Linked DNA regions of Homo sapiens: region 2 is linked to region 1. Evidence: fine-mapped expression QTL. A gene starts in region 1. The other region holds a variant in brackets. All regions are shown on one strand. Distances are from middle to middle. Region 1 holds the start of PLEKHG7 (pleckstrin homology and RhoGEF domain containing G7). Region 2 overlaps PLEKHG7 (pleckstrin homology and RhoGEF domain containing G7).

Evidence for each region. PIP is the estimated chance that this variant, and not a neighbour inherited with it, causes the effect.
Region 2: its variant is the best candidate, but not a certain one, in a credible set for the expression of PLEKHG7 in tibial nerve (GTEx, PIP 0.76).

The regions. Positions count from the first base shown.
Region 1 is chr12:92,701,009-92,705,402 of GRCh38, reverse strand. PLEKHG7 (pleckstrin homology and RhoGEF domain containing G7) reads right to left here and starts at 2,414. Exons shown (of 17, transcript NM_001377329.1): 1 at 2,271-2,414. RefSeq lists an enhancer at 2,214-2,273.
Region 2 is chr12:92,750,222-92,754,615 of GRCh38, reverse strand. It overlaps PLEKHG7 (pleckstrin homology and RhoGEF domain containing G7), which reads right to left. Exons shown (of 17, transcript NM_001377329.1): 11 at 352-526. Among named protein-coding and RNA genes, the nearest start is that of PLEKHG7, 49 kb to the right of the region's middle. The variant C/T (reference allele first, on the strand shown) is at 2,155.

The DNA of each region.
Region 1 (4,394 bases):
ATACTTTTTAGTAGAACTTTTCTAGGGTGTATTATTTGCTTCTTTAACTTGATATAGAGAAGGCTGAAAACCAATAAACCTTTTCCTTATAACCTGACCTCATTCTGTTGACTATCATTCTAGTACTTTGCCAAAATACAGTGATTACTACTATGTTTACTATAGTTCTGTGGAGAATACAATAATTGTTACAGGCTTCTATAGCATCTGAATATTCACTCCCACACCAAATGGCCCCACACCAATGTACTCCCTAATTTTTATTCCTTACTTCTCACTATGCTTTTTGTACTTGCCTATGGCAACCACTCTCTCCTCTTTGTTTCTTTTAATCTGTGTCAGTCATAGAAGTCCAACAACCTTGTGAATAGATAATTAATAGGTTGTTAGATCTATTCCTATCAGTAGAGGAGGAGCTCAATGTTATGACATTGTCATGACAATGTTGTGACTTGACATTGATTTTGGGGACTTTGTGGTCTCTTATTTTACTCCCTGACTCTTACCTTGTTTAAGGTCAAGTAAGTCCAGGCACAGAGGCTCATGCCTGTAATCCGAGCACTTTGGGAGGCAAAGGCGGGAGGATCCCTTGAGCCTAGAAGTTCAAGACCAGCCTGGGCAACATAGTGAGACCCCATCTCTATAAAAACCTTTTTAAAATGCCAAATGAAACTAACAGGTACTGGATTTCAGACTGGTGAGTTGTTTGAGGAACAACTTAGATGCAAACTAACGTCAATTCAACTCTTATTCACAAAAGAAATCTAAAATTCTTAATGTTGTGTTTGCTTTATTTTGAGCTGAGGACTCAATTGTTATAGAACTTCACATGTAGAACTAAAACCCATGAGGTACCCTTTTTTGCAGAGTGGAGGAAAGAGGGCAATGCCAGTTTAGGAAACTTATGTTCAGTTAAGGTGAGATTGTACTAGTTTTGGTTTTAGATTGGTAATTCCTGGAGGCTGCTCTGAAGGTTGATACCAACATTGCTGGAGAGGTATGAAATGGTCCCTCCCTACCATTGATAAAATAAGGTACATTGTTGCTACATGGAGAGGCCAGTTCCTCATTCTCCCAACAAACAAATGCTGAGCTGAGCATCAAATCTATAGGTACTTTCTTTCTTTTTTTTTTTCTTTTTAGAGATGGAGTCTGGCTCTGTCGCCCAGGCTGAGTGCAGAGGTGTGATCATATCGCACTGTAACCTCAAACTCCTAGCCTCACAGAATCCTCATGCTGCAGTGCTCCTGAGTAGTTGGGGCTATGGATGCTTACCACCCCACCCAGCTAATTTTGAATCAATAGGTACTTTCACACATACATACAATCAGGGCCGTTCTATTATTTTTCTCCTTTAGAAGACTGTCCAAGTTCTAGGCAGCAACAATGTTAAAGGAATTCAGTATATTTGCATAGGCACTTGCATAATAGTTAGATCAGATTTCTTAGTCTTTGGGTTTCCCCTCTGTCCTTCTGGCCTTTTCCTCTCCTCTTTTGAGGGGTTAGGATACGGCTTTGGGTTTCCTTTGTAGTCGTTCAGACACAGGGGTGTAGCTGCTGGTAGGAAGTTATTTATGGCCAATAGGATTCACATCGGTAAGAATTATTTATTAGCCACTGTCTTAAATATTGGAACCAAGGCAATAGTAACTGCCGACATGATGCACTGCGGAAATGGAGAAACTTTAAAAACAGCAGGGCTTAGGGAGGTGGTTTGCAGAAAGGCAGGAAGAGCTCAAGCACCAGAAGAAATGGGTCTGGTTTCTCTTCCAGTATCACCGCCAATTGGCTGTGTGACCTAGGACAAGCCACTTCTCCTCTGCCAACTGCCATGCAGCATTTACCAAGAGGACATCAAAGAACCTCCCTCACAGGCCTGTTGCAGAAATTAAATGAGATAATGGCTAAGGCTCCTGGGAAGCTTTCCCTAAATGACTACACCCAGTGGATCTGGTAGAATCAAAAGTTAACAAGTCAATCCATTCATGCTAACTCTTCTTTATGTTTAAAAGAGGAAATTAATACATGGTCACCATAAAGAAAATTCACCAACCTTTGACCTTCCAAGCTTTGAGAATCCAGCAAACACCCACCCACACTGTTGGGGAAGCCATCTCACTGTACTAGAAATGAAACCATTGCAGGTTAATGATTCACTAATTCTAATGAGACCTGGAGAGATCAGCAAAACAAGCGAAACTGATAGCAATAGGACAAAAGGAAAGTGCAAGAGAGAAACCCAGAAAGCAGCTGAATGTTGCCTTTAATACCTGTAAGATGGTCTGTCCCTGAAGGCAACTGCACCCAGGTGGGTCCCGAGGCTCCTCAGAACCCGCAGATCCAGAGTGAGCTGCCAGGCGAGGGCTCGGAGCAACAAGTTCCACACCTGTAACAATGCGTCCTCCTGGCTGAGTGAAAGCAACCTTGCTACCAGCTGCAATGAGGAACTGGTCTCTCCCCTCCTTAGAGACATTTCCAGTTATTTGTTTATGAAAAAGCCTAAAGGGAAGCCAGCTCAGAATCTAAGGCAGCCTAAGAACAAGTCAGGTAAACAACGGCTGATCAAATACAGAAATGATGCAAATGTAACTTTTTACTTCCTCTTGAGGCATTCAACAAATCATCACTCATAGTTCAGTGAAGCAGTTCTAGGTTTCTATTTCATTTATTTTCTCTAAGGTTGTGAGATGCATTCTTTGGGACTCTACTTTCTTCACATCATAAAACATTTTGTGTTGATCTATTTTATTAATGACTTGCTTTGATAAGCATTGAATAGTAGAGGAAATGATTAGAGCACCAGGGAGTGAATTTGTGAACATTAGTTTTCAAATAATTAAAATGCAAATGGAAGAGCATTTATATCTACCAGTATTCTCATTAGATCAGTACCCCAAAGAATATTTATTTGATGCCTAGGTGGAGATAATGCATATGTATGCAGCATTAAACAAAAATGTCTATAGACTTTCCCAAAACAAAGTTGAAGTAATTCTAATGAAGTCTAATTCACTGAAGTTTTCATTGATTGGACTCATTACAGATACTTACTGTGAAGGTTCCCTGAGGTCGGTAGTTCTTAAAGTAGGGTCCCTGGACCAGCAGTATCACTATGACTTGAGAACTTGTTAGAAAGGAAAAATCTTCCCCCTCCATGCTCTCCAACCCCTGGAACTCTGGGATGGGGTCAGAAGTCCGTGGTTTTTTTTTGAGACAGGGTCTCACTCTGTCACTCAGGCTGGAGTGCAGTGGCACGATCTCAGCTCACTGCAACCTCCACCTCCTGGGTTCAAGCGATTCTCCTACCTCAGCTTCCTGTGTAGCTGAGATTACAGGTGCACACCACCAGGGCCCGGCTAACTTTTGTATTTTTAGTACAGACGGGGTTTCACCATATTGGCCAGGCTGTCCGAACTCCTGACCTCAGGTGGTCCACCCACTTCGGCCTCCCAAAGTGCTGGGATTACAGGTGTGAGCCACTGTGCCCAGCCAGAAGTCTGTGTTTAACAAGACTTCCAGGTGATTCTTACATGGGTTAAAATTTGAGAACCACTGCCCTTAGAGGAAAAGAAAAAAAGGTCTAACTTATAGATGTTGGCCTTGTGATAAACTTTATATTAGTCTTTAATTCTCTCATATTGATCTTACTAGAACATCATTTACTTAGAACTTTGAAAAATGACTTGATCTCCTGCCCTCACCACCATTGCCAACATTACCATGACTCAACCAAAAGCAGGATATCAAAAAATATTTTGCCTGCATGGAGCCTGCATAAACAGTTCTGAGCTCCTGCCAAGGATGTCTAGAAGTGAATTGCTTCAATTTGGGAAGGAAAAAAATGAATAAAGTCTTTTAGCTTTTAGTTTGTGGAAGGAAGGTCATACTCTTTTCTACCAATCCCCTCACGCACATGGGATTGTAAAGCTGTCTCTCCTAGGGGATAATGATAATGGAATACTTGATCCCAATGCAAAAACTTCCAACCTCTGGTTGTAACTTCAAGAAGGAAATTAAGAGTCTTATAGAAAGGTCACAAAAGATTATCACGGAAAAAAATGTGCCACCTCCATCTGATTTGTCAAGGAGATGGCAACAGGGAGGCATTTTGGGTGGGGAAGGGACACCCCAGAGTCAGCTTTTCCTTTAAGAACCTGGGGCAACCTCACTGTGGCCCTTTCTCAGATGACACATGGAGGTGCTCTCCAATATCGCAGAGGGAGCAGCTCGCCTCAGCATTTTTTGCCTGTGTGTAGTTTTACGTTTATGTATGCTTTGCTTCAATAAAAAGTATACCTTAAAAAGTATGTCTATGCTAAAAGATGACATCCTGGTTTGCTTACTTTATGGCTTTGAATTGGCAAATTCCTAAAAGATATTTTCTTTCTAGTTGT
Region 2 (4,394 bases), 49 kb before region 1:
TACTCCCATTTGCTTTGTGTGTGGGGTCAGTACGGCTGTTAAAAACAAAGTGCCTTCAGTTATCTGGGAAGTAGAACTTTTCCTGCCTGAACTCACTTCTGAAACACTTGGAGACAGAGCCACATCCTGTGTAAACTTGGTGCTAGAGTTCTCATAGGGTTCGCCAGGATGTGACTGGAGCCCATTGTTCTGTGCGCATTTGATTTACAATGCACTCACACTTGAACCCACATTTCCAAGAGCCATGACCTCAAATCAGTGGAATTACCTCCTAGGATGGAAGCCCAGAAGGTTTCCAGGAGTCACAAGGCCACAATTCTGTAATTAAGCTCACTTATCTCAGGGACTTACGGATGGACTTTTCCACCTTTTCCTTGATGGAGTAGATCATGATTTTCTCAGCAGAGTCCATGCTCCTTTTCCAGATATTCTTCAGCAACAACGGATATCGAGTGAGCCTCTGTAGTGGGGCCACTAGCAGCTCTGGCACGTGGAGCCGTCTGCATTGTTCATTCTGCTCACACCACTGGGGAAGGCAAAAGCAGCCATATCAGAATGATCACCTCTCCCACTGAGCCACTAAGAAGCCTGGATATGAGAGGTTCTTGGAGATTTTACTCAGTAACTGCAGGACCTACTTGTGAGTTTGCTGGGACAATTTATAAGCCACAAATTAAATCCCCTGAAAAGTGCATGTTCCATTAGCAGTAGTGATAAGATGTAGTAATAGGTGGGTTCCAGCCTTGTTTACCCTTCTCATTGGAGAGTGAATTTAGTTTTGCCCATTGGCTTTTCTTCCCTGGCCTTCAGGGGAGAGTTCTGGTTTCATCAGCTTTGGTCCCATCCTTGTTGTGATGCAGTTAGGACAATTGAGAATTGAGACTGGAGAGGCAGAAGGGAAAAGGAAGGATTCTTGCTTGTTGGGTCAGTTCCTTGACTCCTCTTAGTTGGGGAGGATCAGGGTAATGATCGAAAATGAAGAGAAATGAAAATAGAAGATAGAAGTTGAAGAGGCTCAGTTGATCTAGAACAAAGAGAGGAGAGGAGAGAGGTAGAGATGCGGACAATTTTCAATAGGGAGAGTTTGGAGTTGGGGTTTGGAAGAAGAGGCAGTTCTAGGGTATGCCAGCACCGGGGAAGACAAGAAATTTTAGTAATTTAGTAATTGTAGTAAGTATTGCCATGGGTTATCCATTGGGGTTCCATAAATGATGTTTGAGAAACCTGAGTAAACATGAGAATAGCTTTTACGCTTGTTTTATCTGCTGTGCTGTTTCTTTGAATGTGAGCTTCCTTGAACGTAAGGGGCTCTGGCTTTAATGAAGGTGGCAAATGAGGCATGGACGTGGTTGCTGGCCAGCATGCAGATGGGTACATCAGGAAGGAGTATAGGGGTGTGTGTGTTCTCTTCCTCTTCTCTTACCCTGAACACTCACACCAAATTGACCCTGAGTTCAGCGATAAAGGGATTAATATCAACTGAATGTTTGCTTTCCTTCAAATCCACCTAATATTACTTTTAACGCCAAAAACTGCAATTACTTTTGCACCAACCTAATAAAATCCTAACCTTCAGTGGAGCGGCATTAGGAAGTGGGGCTGTTGGGAGGTGATTAGGCCATGAGCATGGAGCCCTCTTGAATGGGATTAGTGTCCCTATAAAAGGGGTCCCGGAGAGCTCTCTAGCTCTCTTTTCACCATGTGAGGCTACAGCGAGAAGACAGCTGTCTGCAACCCACAAAAGGGCCATCACCGGCCCCTAACCATGCTGGCACCAGGAGACTTTCAGCCTCCAGAACTGTGAGCAACAAACTCCTGTTGATTATAAGCCACCCAGTCTATGGTGTGTTGTTCTAGCAGCCTGAATTGACTACAACAGGGATCCTGCCTTTACACTAAATATTTCTCCTGCTGCAGGCTGTTGCCTCATTTCCACCTTCCATTCTCCTTTCATTCTCCAGGTTAAATCCTTTGCCTTGTGACCCAGACCCTTCAGGGCCATCCTCAGGTGGGCCAGGCACACTGCAGGAGACTCCTGCTGCATCCCCAGAGATGTCTTCAAGCCCACGTGTCAGTCCTTGCATTTTGAAGATCTAGGTACAATTAGCTCAACCCCCCACCAATCCAATGGCCTGTGGAGGTCTAAACTCCTCC[C/T]CTAGATATTTACCAACTCATGGGACTGAGATTCTAACATCTTCCTCTGGCTCCTGGACTCTTGTTTCCATGTATACTGTTTCTTCCCTGAACAACATGGAACAAACATATCCCCTTGGTTTCCTATGTTAGTTTCTGCTGTAAACCCCCTCATGACATGTTTTGTGAGTATACGTATTTATTTTACTGAAGATTTTGGGTTGTGAAGAGGGGTCAAATACACAGCCCATGAGACCCTACTATTTTGCTGGCTCTATTCTCTTCTTTGGAAAGAGAGAGTTCTTTCTCTCTTCCCCCTTAAACAAACCCTCCCCTTTTATCTCCTAGCCTCTTGCCTAGCAATTTGCATTTGTCTTTCATAGCTTGACCATGTCCTTGGTGGGGTGAGGTGGGGTCTCACTCTCCTCCCACACTATCAGCTGTTTTTTTTTTTTAAGGGGGATGGGGAACAGGATCTTGCCCTGTCACCCAGGCTGAAGTGCAGTGGTATGATCATGGCTCACTGCAGCCTTGACCTCCTGGTCTCAAGCAGTCCTCCCACCTCAGCCTTTCACATAGCTGACACCACAGGTGCAGGCCACCACACCTGGCTAATTTTTAAATTTTTTGTAGAGACTGGATATCACTATGTTGCCCAGGCTAGCCTCAAACGCCTGGGTTCCAGCAATCTGCACACCTCCCAAAGTGCTGGGATTACAGGTGTGAGCCATAGTACCTGGCTCAGCTGGATGTTTTGGAAAACATCCTGGGCTCTTCATCATGGGGATTCTGCCAAATTCAATCTTCTTGGCCGGGCGTGGTGGCTCATGCCTGTAATCCCAGCACTTTGGGAGGCCGAGGTGGGAGGATCACTGGAGGTCAGGAGTTCGAGACCAGCCTGGCCAACATGGTGAAACTCCGTTTCTACCAAAAATACAAAAAAAAAAAAATTAGCCAGGCATGGTGGCGCACGCCTGTAATCCCAGCTACGCAGGAAGCTGAGGTGGGAGAATTGCCTGAACCCGGTAGGCAGAGGTTGCAGTGAGCCAAGATAGCACCACTGCATTACAGGCTGGGCAACAGAGCAAGACTCTGTCTACAATTCAATCTTCTCCTCTCCCCTGTGTACAGGTGGCTGGCCATGAGAGTGAGCTCACAGTGCATGGTGAATGGAGCTCCAGAAGCCAGGCTCCAAGGACCACCTTCTCTCTCTGGACCTCCGATTTCTCTTCTTAGACAAATTAGGCAACGTGCTGAAAGATATGGTTGTTCTAGGGCAGAGGTAGGATTTGAATTCAGACCTGTCTGAACCCGATGTTCAATCTTCTACAATGCTCTGTTGTAAACAACATTCTTGTAGAACTTAAGCCTATGTTGTGTTATGGGCTGCCTGAAATCGACCTATAAATGCAGTGGGATAAATTTACCCTTCATACCACATGAGGCTAAGCTTTATGAATGTATGTACTTTATCTTGATGTATATTAATGGGATTAGAATTTTTCCAACTGTTTTATTTTTATTTATTTATTTATTTATTGAGACAGGGTAGGTCTGACTTTGTCACCCAGGCTAAGTGCAGTGGTCCAATCATGGCTGACTGCAACCTCAGACTCCAGTGTGGCTAGATGGCTCTTGGCTAGATGATCTCCAAGGTCTCCTCCAAATGACTGTGGTTCTCATTGAGGTTGGCAGGGATGGAGACAGAAGTGAGCACGACAGATGAAGATAAGGCTGGGAGTGGAGGGGAGCAGGGCTATGCTTTAGCGGCTGATTTCCATGTTGACTCACGGGCAGCAGCGTTCCAGTGCTACCTTCAGGTCCTGGACCTCTTGGGTGGCTGGGAGTTCTTGTAACTGATTTCTCAGCAGCAGTTAGGCCCCTGTCCTCCCAAAAAACTCACTGCCCCAGGCCACTGCCCCAAATTGCCCTGCTGTGGGGAACAGCTGTGGCTGCCAGCGTGCACTGGTATTCAGGGTCAAAGTGAAAACACCAAACTCCTCCAGGTAACAATTGGCAAGAAGCATCCGTGGTAAATAATTTAGAGAAGGATCCAGGCAGGGATGTTGGAAGCATTTGTATTTCAGAAAACTTCAGAAGAGACAAAAAGAATGGCTTGACATTATAAAAGTAAAGCTGTAAGTTTTCCTTTCATCTCTCTATTGACTTCATTTTTCAGGTCCGTTAGGGAAGGCAAATAACACTTCCATTGAGAGAGATTGGACATAAAAGGCCTTTTTATTGATAAGTCTAGATCAATA